4 linked regions of the Homo sapiens genome follow. The protein of the gene in region 1 interacts with the protein of each later gene in a pairwise test. Each region holds a gene or a part of one and is shown on either strand. Other genes may lie near its edges.

Region 1 (5,039 bases):
GCCTCCCAAAGTGCTGGGATTACATACATGAGCCACCATAGCCGGCCCAATGGTAAAGGTCACACAGATATCAACCAGAAAGTACTCATTCCCTAAGCCAGGATGGAACCCGGCTGCCACTGTAAAATGGTAAAGCTTTAGTGGCTGAGCATTGGGTGGTCCCACCAGATTTTCATCTAGTTTGCTATGTTTCAACCTGCAGCTGGCAGGGCAGTAGGCCCCCCCACTCCCAACTTCCTTCCTGAGGTTGAATCTAGGCTGCTGTCACTCACTCTCAGGCATCCTTGCTCGGCAGCTCTGGGGTTGGCAACTCTGCCACCCGGGCCCGTTTGCTGAGTTCTTCACCAGGTGGTTCCTCGGCTGCTTCCAGCTTGCGTTTGGGGGATGCTGGGCCACTGGGTAGTGGTCTTGGGCCTGTAGGGAAGCGTGTCAAAGGGTCACACAGACTGTGCATGCAGCCAAAATGATCCCACACTATGCAGCAGCAGCTCTTTAGGGGACAGGGAGCACACTTATCAATGGAATGCCAGCATGCTGCTCCTCAGACCTGCCCCTCGGCCTTGCTTTCAGCAGTGACTTTGCCTGGAAATGTCCAAGGAGGACATGACCAAGCAGGCCTGCTGGTAGCAGGACCAGCTTTTGGGCCCCAAATGGCATGGGCTGTGGCCAGAGACTGATTTGGCCTGCCTGCTGTCCTGCTTTGAAGGTGAGGCATTCCCTCTGCAACCCTGAATCAGCCTCCCCAAGCAGCAAAGAGCAGGGCCCCTGTGGAGGAGTCATGCTGCCCATGGAGGCAGCCTAGCTGGGCCAACTAGAAAAACCCGTGTTCTTCCCATCTCATGTTACTCATCTTCATCCCCAAGAAGGGAAGAGGCTCCGAATGCAGCGAATCTGTCCAGTCTTTCTCCTTGCGGCCACCACCCTGTCTGTGCTGCCTCCTCTCTGGCCTCCCTGTGCCCGCTCCGGCCTACACTGTCCAATCTCCACCCAGCAGGCCAGGGAGCTTTTTCAGACCTAAGTCCAATCATGCCCTGCCCTACTGACCATCCTTCAGTGCACTGAAGGCTGAATCCTAGTCCTCGTCTCGGACATCAGGCCTGCCACATGCTGCTCATGCTGTATCTTGTCCTCATCTCATTCCAGCTCCTCACTGGGACATGCCGCTACACTGACCTCCCTTCGGTTCCTTGAATGGACTAAGCTCGGTACTGTTTGTGAGCTTTTTCTTGCTACTCCCTTTGTCTGGAATGTTATTTTCTCAGTGTGTGGCAGGGCTGGCTCCTGCTCATGACGTGGGTCTCTGCTTAACAGAGGTGTTCCCTGACTGCTCCAATCTCAAGTGACACAGAAGAAATCCTTCTTTCCCAGTCCCTCTGTCAAGATACTCAACTTTCTTTTCCTCCAAAGCACTTGTTATCTGAAATGATCCAACTTGGTTTCTTTACTATCTGACTGCCCCAGGTGGAATATAAGCTCCACTGGGCAAGGCCTCCTTCTGGCCTCAGTCCTGAATGACTGAAGTGGTGGCACAGGCCACAGGAGGCCACAGGAGGTTGGTTGCTGCTGCTCACCTGCACTGCTCATGCTGCCAGCCTGGCTCGAGCTGGGCTCTGCCACAGGGTGACTGAGGTCTTCCACACAGGAAGGGACAGATGCCAGTAGACCTGGGAGAGAGGCGAGGAGTAATCAGAGTGCCGTCTCGCAGGATTGCAGAGGGCTACAGGGCAGGATGAAGCAAGTGGGGGTGGGGAGGGTAGGAGCAAGACACTGAGGTTCCATTTCCTCCCACAGCCCCACAACTACTCAGGAAGGCCCAGTTCATCCCAGCCTGCAGTGTCCCATACCCAGCGAAGGTGTCAACCTGAAAGACAGCACTCAGTCTCCCTTTGCAAGTATCTGGACATCCCCATCTGGCCCCCTGAGCCTGTAGGTGCTGTCCTTCCCTTCAGTGAGCTAGGTGTTTGTCTCCTTACAGAGTCCCCGGTAGCGCGAAAGCTGCTGGTAAATCTGCTTCATTCGTTCAATGTTAAGCCGGCTGGTCTCGGCATGGTTGACGATGGGCCGTGGGTAGTCCACACCAATGATGCACTTGGCTGCCTTCTGAATTGACTCTGGGGCATTCCAGGGCTCATAGATGTATCGAGAGGGGAACGCTTTCAATTTGGGCAGGTATCGCCTGAAATAAGATACACCAGATGACCCATCAGCATACCCAGACCCTCCTTCAAAAGGCCCAGGGTATCCCATCCTAGTAGGAGGCCACAGTGGTCAGAGGCCAGAGAGCCTGGTCTGTATCCTCACCTGATGTAGTCCCCACTGGGGTCCGTGCGACGGCCAAAGCCCACAGGGCAGTAGCAGTGGAAGAACTGCTGGAAGAAAGCACTGCAGGACAGCCACATCCAGCTGCCTGCGTTCACGCTGAAATCTGCATCCAGGAGCAGCTCATCAAATACCTAGATAGGGGAGGGGATGATCAGCCTCCTTGGGGACATGCAGCCATGTTTTTTCCCAAGTCACCACAGTGCCCCCAGGAGCCAAAACCCTTCCATTGAAGGCAAGCCACAGAGGATCTGGAGGGGATCTCCTGGACCCAGAAATCCCACCTCATCCCTCAGCCCAGAAGGGGGCTGCCCTTTGACGGGCCTGACCAGAGGGTACAGGCCAGCTTTTCGTTGAGAGAGCACTCACCCGGACCCCGCTCTCCCAGCTGACCCAGAGGTCCCCGCGGGTCAGGAAGCAGGCCACGGCATGCCGGGCCAGGTGGTGGATCCAGCCCTCCTGCCTCAGTTGGGTCATGATGGCATCAATCCAAGGGAAGCCTGTCTTGCCCTCAGCCCACTTGGCCAGGGCCTCAGGATTGCGGTCCCAGGGGATCTGGATGCAGATGGGGTTCCCCTCCATGCGGTCAAACCTGGGGTTGTTGGTAGCTGCCGTGTAGAAGAACTCTCGCCATAGGAGTTGCCCAAATAGGGAGAGGGGAGGTGTGCTGTTCCGCTTCACCTGAGAGGTAGGGGTGGCACATGGATACAAACACTCGCCCAGCTCTTAGCATGGTGCCTCTCAGGTCTCTTCTACAAAGGAATCTGGGCCCTCCAAAGACCTAGTGGCTCAGCTGCCAGATGTGGAGGGACTATCCCCTAGAAGTGGCACAGCATGCCTGCATGTGAAACACCCAGGCCCTGCCTGCACTGTGCCACTGCTCTGAGCAAGAAGAAAGCTACAGAGGGCCAGGCAGTGGGAAGGGGCCTCACCACAGGACTCTGCACTAGGATTCAAACTTCCCAAGACTGGTCATGTTCCTTGTCCTCAAGAGTTCCCTGTTTGGCTCCACCTTCTAGAAAGTCAAAAGGAATTTTCCTATCAGCACACATGAAAAATGCTCAGTCTAGATTTTGGTTGAATAAATTATACACACAGCCTGGATCTGGGGCCATAAGGTAATTAAGAAATCAGACCTCCAAGCAAATAATGACTTCCCTAAAGTCACAAGATTACTCACCAAACTGGCAAAGCTATCCCATGCCACAAAATCTCAATAATGGCAAGGATGAGGAGATAACATTTAAAAACCTAGATACAGCCAGGTGTGGTGGCTAGCATCTGTCACTTTGAGAGGCTGAGGTGGGTGGATGGCCTGAGCCCAGGAGTTTGAGATCAGCCTGGGCAACATGGAAAAACCCAGTTTCTACAAAAAAATACAAAAAATTAGCCAGGTGTGGTGGCATGCACCTATAGTCCCAACTGCTGGGGAGGCTGAGATAGGAGGATCACCTGAGCCTGAAAGGTTGTGGCTGCAGTGAGCTGTGATCATACCACTGTACTCCAGCCTGGGTGACAGAATGAGATCCTGTCTCAAAAACAAACAAAAAAACAAATGTAGACACAACGGCTAGGCATGGTGGCTCACGGCTGTAATCCCAGCACTGTGGGAGGCCAAGGCAGGACAATTGCTTGTGCCCAGGAGTTCGAGACCAGCCTGGGCAACATAGCAAGACCCTATCTCTACAAAGAATGTAAAAAATTAGCTCTACTTGAGAGGCTGAGGCAGAGGGATTGCTTGAGCCCAGGAGTCTGAGGTTTCAGTGAGCTGTGATCAGGCCACACTACACTCTAGCCTGGGTAACACAGCTAGACTTTGTCTCTTAAATAAACAACAGAAACAAAAAACATAGGCACAAGATGAGGTGATCCCTCTGAATGCTGACTGTGTTGCCCTCTCTCCTTCTGGGGACAGTTAACACAGGCTTATTTGCTTCTTGTCTGTATAGCACAGCCCTGTGTGCAGCCCCTCCACACCACTCCCTCCATCACTGATGGGCAACTGCTGTTCCTGGACTCCCCTTTTGAATGCTGTGGACACAGCTCCAGAGCGGGCAGCTATGCTCTTCCACTTCAGACTGGCTCCAGCCTCACCCTCTCCATGCCTCTCACCCTGGGGACCTCGCCCCTGTCCACCAGCTGCCAGAGGATATGCCACCTCTAGGGTCACACCTGAGGCCTGCTTTTCTGCCTGTCCTTCTGCTCTACATGATGGTCTGGGCTTCATTCTGGTGGGCAGTTCACTCTGTGCTTGGCTCTGCCCTCTTGGATATTGAGTCTTCTCTCCTCCTCCGGACTATCTGCACACACTTAGGCCCTTCCAGGGGCCATAGCCCAACCCCCACCCACCAGTGCCTTTTTTAGGGTGACTGACAAGCCCAAAAGGCCTGGCTGCAGGCCTTAGGTGCAATGTGGGCAGGTATGTCCCCCTTACCTTTTTATACAGGTCCCACAGGCGGTAGTAGAAGAGGCGGCAGGAGAGACAACCAAAGCGCAGGTAGGGGCTGAGGCCTGTGGGGCTGGCCAGGAGGGAGTTGGCGTTCATTCGGGGTCTCTCATAGTTGGCAACCCAGGCCTACAGCAGAAAGAGAAGGTGGCAAAAGGAAAGGCTTGGATGTAACAGAGGAAAAAATGGAGGCATTGGGTGGTTAAGGAATCTGCCTACGGTCACAGAACAGCCAGCCATGGAGCCATGGAACACTGTGCTTGTCCAGCCGATT
Region 2 (5,039 bases), on another chromosome or scaffold:
ACCTTTGGCATTGCTAAAGGGACAAGACCAATAGGCTTTGAAATGAATGCCTTAGAAGACAACATCTGAAAAAACAAGGAAAAATAAGGATAGCAAACTATTAAAATAGCAACCCAGCCTCCACATAATTTAAGATGATGGGCTCCTGATATGGGTTGGATGCTTGTCCCCTCCAAATCTCATGATGAAATGTAAATGTAATTCCCAATGTTGGAAGTTGGGCCCAGTAGGAGGCAACTGGATCATGGGGGCAGATCCCTCATGAATGGTTTAGTACCATCTCCTCGGTAATAAGTGAGTTCACACAAGATCTGGTTGTTGAAAAGTCTGGGACCTGCCCCACCTTGCTCTCTTGCTCCCACTCTTGCCTTGTCATGCACCTGCTCTCCCTTCACTTTCAGCCATGACTAGAAACTTACTAAGCCTCACTATAAGCAGATGCCGGCACCATGCTTCCTATACACTTTGGAGAACCGTAAGCCAATTAAGCTTCTTTTCTTTATAAATTACCCAGTCTCACGTATTCTTTTATAGTAATGCAAACAGACTAATACAGCTCCCTAGCCTATCTGCATAGAAAATGAACTTCCCCTTCCCCCACCCCTCTCCCAACCCGGCAAAATGTACCATTACCTGGTAATGCTTACTTAAGTTTTTTACTACACAATGCCTGGCATTCAATAAAAAATTATGAGACATAAACAAAACAATCAACAGACTTGACCTAACTGACATTTGTAAAACACTCCACCTAACAACAAAACACACATTCTTTTCAACTGCACATGAAGAACACTTACAATGATAGAATATATTCTAGGCCATAAAATAAATCCGAATAAATTTAAAATTATCTCATTACAATGGAATTAAATTAAAAATAACAATGATCTCTGGAAAATCCTCAAATATTTGAAAACTATATAACACACTTATAAATAAACTATAGACCCAGTAAGACATCAGGAAAGAAATTATAAAGTACTCTGAATGGAATGAAAATGGAAACATATCAAAAACTGGAAACGGCCAGGAGTGGAGGCTCACATCTGTATCCCAGCACTCCAGGAGGCCAAGGAAAGAGGATTGCTTGAACTGAGTTCAAGACCAACATGGGCAACACAGTGACATCCTTGTCTTCAGAAAAAATTGTAATAAACTCTGGCCAGGTGTGGTGGCTTACACCTGTAATCCTAGCACTTTGGGAGGCTGAGGCAAGTGGATTGCCTGAGCTCAGGAGTTGACGACCAGCCTGGGCAACATAGTGAAACCCTATCTCTACAAAAAATACAAAAATTAGCCAGGCATGATGGCACGCGCCTGTAATCCCAGCACTTAATAGACTCTGGTGCGAGGATCTCTTGAGCCTGAGACGTCGACACTGTGGTGACCCCGTGATTGGGCCACTGCACTAAAGCCTAGGCAACGGAGTGAGACCCAGTCTCAAAAAAATAAAAATAAAAATAAAAAATTAGCCAGGCATGGTGGCACATGCCTGCAGTCCCAGCTACTCAGGAGGCTGAGGTGGGAGGATCACTTGAGCCTGAGAGGTCAAGGCTGCAATGGGCCATGATCACGATACTGTACTGCCTGAGCAGTAGTGAGACCTTGTCTCAAAAAACAAATAAATAAATTATAAACAATTAAAGGGAAGTTTATAGCATGCTTACATTAGAAAAGAAAAAAGGTCACAAATCAATGACCTCAGCTTCTATCTTAAGAAACCAGAAAAAGAAAACAAATTAAACCCAAAAGTAAGCTGAGGAAAGGAAATAAAGACCAGGGCGGAAATAAGAAAACCACAGGCAGTCAATTAAACTAAAAGTTAACTTTTTAAGAACCTCAATAAAATTAATAAACTTCTAGCCAGACTAATCAGGGAAAAGGGGAGCAGAGACAAATTACTAGTATTCGGAATGATACTAAATCTCTACAGGTTATACAGATATTAGACTCATTACACTTTCTACAGATATTAAAAGAACAATAATAGAGTATTATAAGCAACTTTTTGCAATAAATGCAACAAGTTAAATGAAATGGGTAAGTTCCTTCGAAAACTTATCAGGCATGTGAAGAGACGGAACAATACAACCATATGACCAATAACCAACAGAAAAACAAACAAGATAAACAGACCAATAGATGATGCCGATATTGGAAAAGACAAGCATTTAAATAACTATAATTAGTATGTTCAAGAGAACTGGAGTCTATTACAAGTCTATAAAACAACATCAAAGGAATACTCTAGAACTCAAAACCACAATGTAAAATTAAGAACACAAAAGATTATTTTGACAAAAAGAGAAGATAGTTTTGGCATACTGGAAGGCAGGTCGATAGAAAATATCCAAACAGAGAAAAAAATTTTTTTCAACATGTGGAACATGATAATTAAGTTTAATATATGTGTAATTAGGATCCAAAAAGAAAAAAGGGGCAGAATATATGAAAAGGTGGTAACAGAACTTTCCAAAACTAAAAGGCATCCAGCTAGATTCAAAAAACTCTATAAACATAAAGCAACAAAGAAAACCACATCTGAACACATCAAAGTGCTTTAAAAGTAACACAGAGAGTCTTAAAATTAGCCAAGGAAAAATAAAAGACACATTATCCTCAGCAAGAATATAGCTAATACATTGCCTTCAATAAGACTGGTAGCTGACTTCAACAAAAAGAAAGGAAGACAGAAAGCAACCAAACATTCTTAATGTGTTGAAAGAAAATAACTACCAACTTAGAACTTAATAGCCAGTGAAAACACACTTCAGGCCAGCCACAGTGGCTCATGCCTGTAATCCTAGCACTTTGGGAGGCCAAGGTGGGCAGATCACTTGAGGCCATGAGTTTGGAGACCTGCGTGGCCAACATGGCAAAATCCTATCTCTACTAAAAATACAAAAAATTTAGCTGGGTATGGTAGCACATGCCTGTAATCCCAGCTACTCAGGAGGCTGTGGCATGAGAATCATTTGAACCCAGGAGGCAGAAGCTGCAGTGAGCTCAGATCACGCCACTGCACTCCAGCCTAAGCAACAGAACGAGACTGTCTCAAAAAAACAACAACAACAACAACAAAAAAAACACCAAAAACCACTTCAAAAAAGGTGAAACTGCCGTGCATGGTGGCTCACACCTATACCCAGCACTTTGGGAGGCCAAGGTGGGGGGATCTCTTAAGCCCAGGAGTTCAAGAACAGCCGGGGCAACATGACAAGACCCCGCCTATACAAAAAATTTAAAAATTAGCTGGGCATGGTGGCATGTGCCTGTGGTTCCAGCTACTGAGGAGGCTGAGGTGAAGGATTGCCTGAGCCCAAAAGGTTGAGGCTACAGTGAGCCATGTTCACACCACTACACTCCAGCCTGGGTGCCAGAGTGAGACCTTGTCTCAAAAAAAAAAAAAAAAAAAAAAAAAAAAGGTGAAATTGAGATATTTTCAGAGAAACAAAAATAGAAAAAATCACTGATACTAGGTAGGCCAGTATCAAAATGCATGATATAGGGAAGTGACAGTATTATTATCCTAAAAATTGAAAACAACTTCAATGTCCAACAGAAGATTGATAAGTAAATTATTACACAGAGATGAGAATGTTACATACCTACTAAAAATAATCACATAGCAGAAAAATACTGACATGAAAATATGTTGATGATTCACTGTTAACTGAACAGCTTGCACTGCAGTGGACTACATTAGGAGCCCATAACATCATATAAGTATACATATACTTATGTAATGGCTCAACAAAATGCAGGAAGCAGATAGATAATCAAGAAGATTAACAACAGCACTTTCGGTGGTATGATCTCCAATGATATTAATTTTTTTTTTTTTTTTTTGAGACTGAGTCTTGATCTGTCGCACAGGCTGGAGTGCAATGGCGTGATCTCTGCTCACTGCAACCTCTGCCTCCTGGGTTCAAGCAATTCTCCTGCCTTAGCCTCCCAAGTAGCTGGGATTACAGGCACCCGCCACCATGCCCGGCTAATTTTTGTACTTTTAGTAGAGACAGGGTTTCACCATGTTGGCCAGGCTGGTCTCAAACTCCTGACCTCAAGTGATCCACCCACCTCAGCCTCCGAAAGTGCTGGGATTACAGGTGTGAGCCACTGTGCCCTGCCTAAAATGTAATCTATGCTTTCTTACTGTTTCCCACATTAGGGATGTGCTATTTTTTAATTGGGGGCAAGAGAGGAGGGGAGAGGAGGGGAGGGGAGGGGAGGGGGGAATGGAGAAAGGCAACTCTTTACATTAAACCATATTTTAATACAAATGATAAGTTCTTAGCTAGGCATATGGTCTAACCTTTATTGGTATATCCCCCATGTGTGCTTTTTAATTTTTTTTTGATACCAAAACCTGCCAACATGAATCAACCTGTACTTTCATTTTCCACTATTTGGACCTTGAGAGCTTGCTCGAAGGTTCTAGCAGGGGAGCGCAGCTGCTCGTATACCCTTGACCCAAGACCAGTCCTCCTCTATTTGGGATGGTTGTCCTCTTCAACCAAGCACGCAGCTTCAGCTTCAGGAGGGACGCACGTGGAGTGGAGAGGGAGGAAGGGGACACCTGCCGAGCCAGCCAGATGAGCTGAATCAACCCTGGGGATCAATGGGGTAACATGTCACAGCCAGATAGCCCTCACATTCAATTTTCCACTATTTGGGATGAGAATTAAAAATGTTAAGTACCTGAATGTGACCTCTTTGAAAAAGAAACTTAATCGTCGTCATTATTAATGTAAAAAATGAAAATGTTTCTGAAAAATGAAAAGCAAATTATATCCGAAACAGCATACTTTAAAAGACAAAGTAATTCATAAAATTTCATTTTTCACAAGTGATTTCTGTAGACTTCTAAGACTTAAAATTAACAGAATTACATCTCTGTGAAATATCCAACTAAAGTAATAACTCAGAGTTGAGGCTATAAGAGTAAGTTTAAATAATTCAACATTTGCATAATCAAAAAAATGGAAAAAAACAGGAATCTCGGTATCCACCTGTTTCACAGAAGTTACACCTAA
Region 3 (3,992 bases), on another chromosome or scaffold:
TCTTGGGCTGCTTTTGATGGTTTTTTTTTTCCCCCTTCCTGTCCTCTTTTTCCAACCCCAGAACAAACTGCCAGCGTTCCTGGTTGGTGTTGCTAACTCAGGTCACCCTGAGGCTGCCCTGTCTTTCTCTTGCTTGTTGTGAGCCCCTCCCTCTACGCCCATGTGCCCGAGGCTGTGCCGCTGCCTTGTGCAGGCACCCAGGGTTTATGCCAGTGATTTCCTGACACAAGCAGCAGCACAGAACGTGTGTGTCCCAGGTTTAGGTTTGGGAGGCCTGCCTGGAGAACAGCCATCCCAGGTTCTGGGAGCTTTCTCAATTTACTGTTTTATCCAAAGATGGGTTGGCCTTTCTCTGGACATAGTGAGCTTCCTTGGGCTAGTTCTTAAGCCTGAGACTAAAAGTTCTCACCATGAGTTATTAGGGAGGCCTGTAAAATGTAAAGGCCATGCGTTTTTTTTGCTCTGTTACCCAGGCTGGAGTGCAATGGTATGATCATGGCTCACTGCAGCCCTGAACTCCTTGGGCTCAAGCAATCCTCCTAACTCAGCCTCTGCATAGCTGTGACAACAGGTGTGTGCCACCACACCTAGCTAATTTTTAAATTTTTGTAGATACAGGGTCTCCCTATGTTGCCCAGGCTGGTCTCAAACTCCTAGGCTCACATGATCCTCCTGCCTCAGCCTCCCAAAGTGCTGGGATTACAGGTGTGAGCCACTGCACCCAGCCAAGGCCATGCACCTTTAAGTTCTTTACCTGGGCTTTACTCTAAGATGGGAGGCCTCAGAGTGAGAAAAGCTGCTAAGAAGTGGGAAGGAGCCTGTACCTCTGGTGATTAGGGATTTCTCTTTTCGTCCACCCCCATTCTCACCTCCACTGGAAGTAGACCTGTAAGAAAAATTAAAGCAGTTTAGAAAGGGTTGAAACTGTTTATTCACCCATCCCTGCCAAAATTTTCTGGAACATTCCTAGTTTCAGATGTTCCTTATATCTTAAAACAGCATAAGAACTGTTTTTTGTTTTTAAAAAAAAAATTTGTAGAGATAGAGTCTCACTGCGTTGCTCGGGCTGGTCTTGAACTCCTGGGCTCAAACCCTCCTCTTGCCTCAGCTTCCCAAAGTGCTGGGAATACAGGCATGAGTCACCATGCTTGGCAAGAACCGCTGGCTATAGACCATGACTTTTTTTTTTTTTTTTTTTTGAGACGGAGTCTCACTCTGTCACCCAGGCTGGAGTGCAGTGGCGCAATCTCAGCTCACTGCAACCTCTGCCTCCCAGGTGCAAACGATTGTCCTGCCTCAGCCTCCCTAGTAGCTGGGACTGTAGGCGTATGCCACCACCCTCAGCTGATTTTTGTATTTTTTGTAGAGATAGGGTTTCATCATGTTGGCCAGGCTGGTCTCGAACTCCTGACCTCAGGTGATCCACCCATCTCGGCCTCCCAAAGTGCTGGGATTACAGGCGTGAGCCACCACGCCCATCCTATATACCTCACCCAAGTCGTGTAAATAAAGCCTGAAACTTGGGAAGAGGAGGCTGGACTATTGAGGTCTTATTGAGGTTGCTGTGCAAATCAAGATGATCCCATTTCTAAGAAATGGCTAGTCTGGTATAGAAGCTAAGGATTTGTTTAGGAAAGCAGGAAGCTCTTGAATATGAATCCAAGCTCAGTGGAAATGGGCTGAGTTGAATTACATTTAGCAGGTGGCTGCTGCCGTTCTAGAGAGAAGAGACTTGGAGGGACCTCTGCCCTCACTACCAGGCAGACCTGGCTTGGCAGGGTGCCTTGAGCCTCACTGGAACAGCAGTTGGTTTTCCCAGAACTCACCCCAGAAGCCTGTGTCCTCTGATAGCACTGGCCAGTTAGGACAGGAGGCTTTGATTCCCAGAGAGAGCCAGCAGGACTCCACTCTCATCTATGCAAGCACAGGCTGAGGGTGGATGGCATTAAAGTGACTGCACTGCTGAGTGGGGAATAGGGGCTGGGAACTCTCCTGGAAGCTTTCATCATATTAAAAGTAGGCATTTCTTTAACTGCAAAGAGATACTTTTATATTTTGTACTCAGTGGTAAGGCAAGATTAATTGGTACCTTCCTGCTTCTGTTCATTCCTGTATTCATTTGAGTTTTTGCTTTTACATTACAGGTAAATTAAAAGATCTTGGGAACTTGGTTCTCCGACCTTTTGGGCTCTCCACGGAAAATTTCCAGATCAAACAGGATTCCTCTACCGGCTCGTACTCCATCAATTTCGTTCAAAATCCAAATAATAACAGATAACAAAGATAACAAAAGCTTTACAAGCTGACTTGGAATTGTGTGCTGCTTGCTGTTAGCTAGGGGAAAGGCCCTGCCAATGTTTAACTTTTAAAAGCATCTTATCTAAAAGAAAGGCTATCCAGTAGAGCCCAGTGCTCCCTTGTCCCTCTTTTATGATCAGGGTGAAATGTACTTCCTGATGTAATGAACCTAATTTGATTTCCATTTTAAGGTGGTGTCTGTGCAGCTGGTGTCCCCGATTCTGGCTGTCCTATGTCCAGGAAGAAGCCCATTTGTTGAGGCTGACCTTCCTGATCATACACACACACAGCCCAGCAAAAGCCTCTCCTGAACCAAACAAACCTGTTGGTTGGGAGACTGCCCAGACATGATTGATGACGGGTTCCCGCCTGCTGTCCCCTCCCTGATCACACAGCTAACGAGGCTGCCTCCAGCATTTCCTGATTTCCTCTGTGGTAATAAAAGCTTTCTGTGCTTAGGTCTGGGTTAGGTTGTGAATTTTGTCACGTAACGACAACTAAGGCAGAAGCCTTCTCTGGCTTTGGGAGCAGTGTTGGTTTCAAGCAGGGTTACTGATTCCAGATTCCACAGATCTGCCCAAAGTTTTTGTTGCCTTGAAGATTTATCTTGAAGAGTTGACCATTCTACCATGTACTAGAATTCAGAAAGTCCACCTTACAAGCTATCTTGGGCCCCTCCAGGTTTGTATAGATAATTATAAATCTGTGTTTGACCAAATGTTAATATTTTTAACTTAAAATAGCTTCATTGAGGAATGGTAGTATATGAACCCCAGAACAAAACCATATTCTTTTAAACTACATGAACCTAGAGGTGTCAAAGATAGAATTTTTTTGTGCTCATCAGTTGATGCTAGTGAGAAGCTTGCAGTTGCTCTGGTTTGAGTCTCAAAAGCTTGACATGCAAGTTTCATCTTGGATGTAAATTACACATATAATTCTGTAAGTGACATGCAGTAGTCAGTCATACTCCCAGTGTTAAGGACTATGTGGTTCTTCTCATCTGTTCCTAAAAGCTTTTTATCTTTTTTCTTCTTTTGGTCAAAGTGAACCTCAGAAGAAACTGTTAAATCTGGCATCCAATTTTCCTGAAAATGTGTGTGTGAAAAATCACACAAGTTGTATGGAAACCGTGTGGAATGCTGGATGGTCTGGTAGTCAGTGTTCGGTGCTTCCTGTGCAGCCAGCATTATGCTAGAAAGTGGTTCTCATTTTTTTTTTTTTTTTTTTGAGGGGGGTCTCGCTCTGTCACCCAGGCTGGAGTGCAGTGGCGCAATCTTGGCTCACTACAACCTCTGCCTCCCAGGCTCAAGCAATTCTCCTGCCTCAGCCTCCAGAGTAGCTGGGATTACAGGCATGCACCACCACACCTGGCTAATTTTTTGTATTTTTAGTAGAGACAGAGTTTCACCATGTTAGCCAGGCTGGTCTTGAACTCCCGGCCTCAAGATGATCCACCCACCTTGGCTTTGGATTACAGGCGTGAGCCACCGTGCCCAAACTTTTATTTCAGCAGCCCTTCATAGTCTGGAAAAAAAAATTTTAAGAGCATTTCCATTTATGTGCATTCTATCAATATTTAGTATATTAAAAATTAAGATAGAAAGTGTTAAAGTAATCCCTTTGAAAAATAACATGTTTCCTGTTACTATAAATACTTTTATGTCAGGCCAGGAACGATGGATGGTTTATAC
Region 4 (5,039 bases), about 66 Mb from region 1:
CAACTCTCCTGCCTCAGCCTCCTGAGTAGCTGGGATTACAGGCGCCCGCCAACACATCCAGCTAATTTTTGTGTTTTTAGTAGAGACAGGGTTTCACCATGTTGGCCAGGCTGGTCTCGAACTCCTAACTTCAAGTCATCCACCCGCCTCAGCCTCCCAAAGTGCTGGGATTACAGGCATGAGCCACCATGCTCAGCAAATTACTATTTTTTTTAACACGCTTTAGATTTTTATCATAATGCCATTACCATAGGAAGGGATCTCTACTGCCAGAAAAACCAGAGACTGGGGAACACACATGCATAGCCTTGACCAAGACCTTAACTGCACTGAACTCTACTTGGCCAGATGCCTACTATGTTCTTGGTTCCTCTGACTGTTTTCAGAAGAATGCAAACCATTCCAGAGTTCTGCCTGTTTTCTTTTGTCTATTTCTGTCTCTTTCTCTCTCCCCATCTCCTCTCAAGGCCTGGCTGACCTGCAAGGTTTCTTTGAATGTCTATCTATGCTCAATAACTGATACCTTCTCCTTTCTCCTATAATAAATAAATAAATTTCCCTTCTACATTCCTCCCTCTGATCAAAACTGTCTACTCAACCACAGGAATATAGGTGAGTGATACTTTCTTCCTTATACTTCTCTGGAATTTTCACAATGTTCTTTTAGTAGTTACCTAACTAGGGGAAAAGTTTCAAAAACTCTAACTGATCCAGTGATCATTATATAACACTTATCTGAAATGCAAAAGCAAAAAAGCTCCTGTGATTAAGTACAAAACAATTTCAGAGCTGTTATTTCATTGGTTCATGGAACTCTTGCAGTCCCCACTTCAGCATGCTGCTGCAGTGAAATAAACAAGGGTTTCTCCTGCTCCCAAACTGAAAGAGAAAATCCGAAAAGAGGAAGGAGTAATCAAGTTGCATAGAGAAGACAATCTTACAGAGAAAGGGTGCCAGGAATTTAATTCTTTGTGGAATATTAGAACTTTAAAAATTCCTCAAAATAAAACACCATCTTAATCTAAAATGCCAACTTTTAAAGAAAGCATAGAATGACTTGAGGCCAACCCAAATGCCCATCAATGACAGACTGGATAAAGAAAATGTGGCACATATACACCACGGAATACTATGCGGCCATAAAAAAGGAATGAGTTCATGTCCTTTGCAGGGACATGGATGAAGCTAGAAGCCATCATTCTCAGCAAATTAACGCGGGAACAGAAAACCAAACAGTACATGTTCTCACTAATAAGTGGGAGTTGAACAATCAGAACACATGAATACAGGGAAGGGAACATCACACACTGAGGCCTATCAGGGGGTGAGGGGCGAGGGGAGGGAGAGCATTAGAACAAATACCTAATGCATGTGGGGCTTAAAACCTAGACGACAGGTTGATAGATGCGGCAAACCACCATGGCACATGTATATCTATGTAACATAACAAACTTGCATGTTCTATGCATGTATCCTAGAACTTAAAGTAAAATAAAATTTAAAAAAGCACAGAATGATTTGCTAGGATGCACCATTCCCAGTAACGTCAAATATTTATCAGATATAACATAAACATTTTTTTTAAAAGTGGTATTTCTTTCCTATGATTTGCCAAATTTTAATTTTATTTAAAAAGAAATAAATAGGCCACAATAAGATAACTTTAGAGAAGAAAAAGAGAAAGAAGTCTACAATCCAGTTTGAAAACACTGGAAATACCCACATATATAAGCCCTTATACATTTTCACATATTTTTTCACATCCTTCCTCTTCACACTCTTAACCATATGATCCTCCATATGATGCAAACATGCCTTTAACAAAACCACCCACACGTATAAGCAGACACAAATATCCTCATTCCTCCCAAATTTCCAGGCATAAGCACCCATAGATGAACAAAGAGATACACTAAATACATATATCAAGTATATAAAAGATACTGTGGAACTGACTCAGGTTATCTATTATATCCACCAAAACATGGAAACAAAGCTCAAGGACAATGTCACATGACCCCATAGGGGCACTCACACTCATCGAAACAGGTCTAAGACAACACTGAAGCTGTCAAGTCTGGACCTGGGATCTGGCAGAGACGGTACATCTGTCACCCACTGCTGCCTGGCACACAAGGGGATACACACATATACCTCTACCTGAAGCCTCACCAGGAAGTCACTTGCTCATTCCTGCTGTCCTATCTGACCTGCCCTGAGCTCACCCTCTCCTAGCACTGTAGCAGCAGCAGTGAGAGTACAAGCAGTAAGCCTTCCTTTCACCCAAACCAGAAATCCAGGCCCTCTCTCTCCCTATGGCAAAGCTAGTGTTTCCCACACCTAAGAATCCTCTACTGTCTCACTGTAGATCTCCTCTTCTATGTCACCTCAAAAAGCCAAGTAGCCATTTCTCCCACCCAGGCCTTTCATCTGATTCCAATCTCCATACAACCTAGTGTATAGCTGCTGAAGACACCAATTACAGGATGGTCAAAAAGAGGATCTTCAGATAAGGGAGGAGTAAGTAGATATATAAAAGAGATGGTCTGAAGATAATGTAATAGATTGAGTAAGAAAATAATGCAAATAAATTGTTTAATGGAGAAAATAAAATCGAAGATACAAAAAATTGGTAGAAACGTCAAATTTATATTCAGAAGATTAAACTTTAATTAGAGCCTTTCTTCATTCCTACAATATTAAGGCAAAATATCTGGTCAGACTGAGATTCCTTTCTAAAAGGAAATGTATGAAAATCATGGATATATGGGCTTTCAATAATCTGTTTTTATCTACTCACCATGGTCCACGAGCCAAGCCATACATAAAGAATTCAGCTTTTCATCAAAGAATTCCACACCCTACAGATACAGAAGATTCCATTAACATACATTGCCAAAATTCAGAAATAAAGATGGTCTATTTACATTACACCAAGGTTACCTGAAGGCTAAAAAAACTTGTTTCCAAATAAACAAATAAGAGATAGAAACACCACAGGAATTACAAACAAACCATAAATCTATTTATTGGACGGAAATCATAAACAAAAAAAAAGCATACGTGAGCTGGCATAGGCCCTGCTAGGTAAAAGAGAACAGGGTGGCCAGAAGTCAGCCACAACACTGCAAAAGAGCAGGAAGAATGCACTGTGTATGGTCTGCCAAGCAAATCTGGATTACCTGTAAAAATGAATTACCCAGGAAAACACCTGTCAGTAATATTACTAATTCTCAATCGTCTTCCCTTTTTGGTTACTATTATGACAAATCCTTAAGGATAAAGCAACTGACCTCAAGACATAGAGATATCCCCAGTTAAAGAGAGTATTTTCGAGACAACAGGAGAAAGCCCTGGAGGGAGAATAAAGCAGGCCCAGGACTACAGGGCATATGGCCCAGGCATGGCTTGCTCTCCCAGCCCTGTTCCTCCCGACTGTCAACAGGTGGCCACTTCAGTGCAGGCTGGGGATGGGCTCCGGGAGCAGATTTACACAGTCCTCTAACCCCGGGGCTTCCACACCACATGGAGAATGCTGTGACACACTTTCCTAGTGCCTCCCTTCTGGGGTCTACACATTTACAGTCTTGCTTCTTTGAACTCTAAGAAGTTCCTGACTGGTGATTCTATATTTTAAAAAAAGAGAGGTAATATAATGTGTCAGTGCTTTGAAAATAGTGATTGAATAAGACAAAATAGCTTTTTTTTTTTGAGATGGAGTCTCACTCTATTGCCCAGGCTGGAGTACAGTGGCACAATCTCAGCTCACTGCAACCTCCACCTCCCGGGTTCAAGTGATTCTCCTGCCTCAGCCTCTCAAGTAGCTGGGATTACAGATATGCAGCACATGCCCAGCTAATTTTGTATTTTTAGTAGAGACAGGGTTTCACCATGTTGGCCAGGCTGGTCTCTTAACTCCTGACTCAGATGATCCGTCCGCCTCAGCCTCCCAAAGTGCTGGGATTACAGGCATGAGCCACCGCACCTGGCCCAAAATTGCTTTGTACTAAAAGATCATAATGAACAAATTTTGGCATACACTTAGATTACGTCAGCCAAGATTTCTTTTTCATTTCAGGTTGAGAATTTTCCTTCAGTTTTAATTAACTTTTATTTTCCAGTTTGTTGTTGTTGTTGTTGTTGTTGTCGAGACGGAATCTCTCTCTGTCGCCCAGGCTGGAGTACAGTGGTGCAATGTCAGCTCACTACAACCTCCGCCTCCTGGGTTCAAGCAATTCTCCTGCCTCAGCCTCCCAAGAAGCCTCCCAAGTAACAGGCACCCACCACCACACCCGGCTAAATTTTTTGTATAGTAGAGATGGGGTTTCACCATGTTGGTCAGGCTGGGCTCAAACTCCTGACCTCAGGTGATCCACCCACCTAGGCCTCCCAAAGTGCTGGGATTACAAGCGTGAGCCACTACGCCTGGCCTATTTTCCGGTTTTTGTAGTTTAACTTTACACTTACTTAACATCGTCCACAAGCCAGGTCATACATAAAGTCTTGAGAGAATTTTATAAAATGACTATCTGATATAAAAATATTTAGATATGAAGAGAAATTAAGGAGAATATATATACTAACAAGAAGTTAAAATTGTAAAGCAAAATGTTCATGACTGAGGCATGTCACCCCTGCCAGACAGGTGTAAGTCAGCCAAAGACACCATCTGCCTTGCTTTCACACTGCTCTCTATAGAGCTAGCAACCCTGGGAAACTTTCCAGGTCTAGAAGGAGCAGAGGTTAAAAGAAATGGTACTAAAATGCACCCTCCCTTCCAGATAGTTTTGGTCTTCAGCAAATCAGTTAATCACTGCTCCTCTCCACTCTGAAAAGTAGATCCATGACAATCACCAGTGAAGAGAAGATGACCCATAGCACTTGGGAGTGACAGACAAAAAGGATGACAAAATAACTTCACCTGATCCCATTTGCCATGCACTAATACCTCTGGTATACTTTTCAAAGAATCGGACACTTTCAATTTTATAAAACATATAATGCCACAGACATCCACAAATTGCATGTTCATAAACTAA

Evidence for each region.
Region 2: the proteins of CRY2 (region 1) and CLOCK interact in a two-hybrid assay, tested with the Homo sapiens proteins (one study listed by BioGRID).
Region 3: the proteins of CRY2 (region 1) and TTC1 interact in a two-hybrid assay, tested with the Homo sapiens proteins (one study listed by BioGRID).
Region 4: the proteins of CRY2 (region 1) and PPP2R1B interact in a two-hybrid assay, tested with the Homo sapiens proteins (one study listed by BioGRID).

The regions. Positions count from the first base shown.
Region 1 is NC_000011.10:45,867,467-45,872,505, reverse strand, and holds part of CRY2 (cryptochrome-2), read right to left. Parts: intron 4,895-5,039; coding exon 4,754-4,894; intron 3,001-4,753; coding exon 2,689-3,000; intron 2,454-2,688; coding exon 2,302-2,453; intron 2,177-2,301; coding exon 1,974-2,176; intron 1,665-1,973; coding exon 1,572-1,664; intron 415-1,571; coding exon 275-414; 3' UTR 273-274; intron 1-272. UniProt on the Homo sapiens protein: Transcriptional repressor which forms a core component of the circadian clock.
Region 2 is NC_000004.12:55,536,174-55,541,212, forward strand, and holds part of CLOCK (circadian locomoter output cycles protein kaput), read right to left. Parts: intron 66-5,039; exon of another isoform or gene 3-65; intron 1-2. UniProt on the Homo sapiens protein: Transcriptional activator which forms a core component of the circadian clock.
Region 3 is NC_000005.10:160,062,788-160,066,779, forward strand, and holds the end of TTC1 (tetratricopeptide repeat protein 1), read left to right. Parts: intron 1-754; exon of another isoform or gene 755-869; coding exon of another isoform or gene 870-886; intron 887-2,144; coding exon 2,145-2,278; 3' UTR 2,279-2,756; downstream 2,757-3,992.
Region 4 is NC_000011.10:111,745,154-111,750,192, forward strand, and holds part of PPP2R1B (serine/threonine-protein phosphatase 2A 65 kDa regulatory subunit A beta isoform), read right to left. Parts: intron 2,862-5,039; coding exon 2,801-2,861; intron 1-2,800. UniProt on the Homo sapiens protein: The PR65 subunit of protein phosphatase 2A serves as a scaffolding molecule to coordinate the assembly of the catalytic subunit and a variable regulatory B subunit.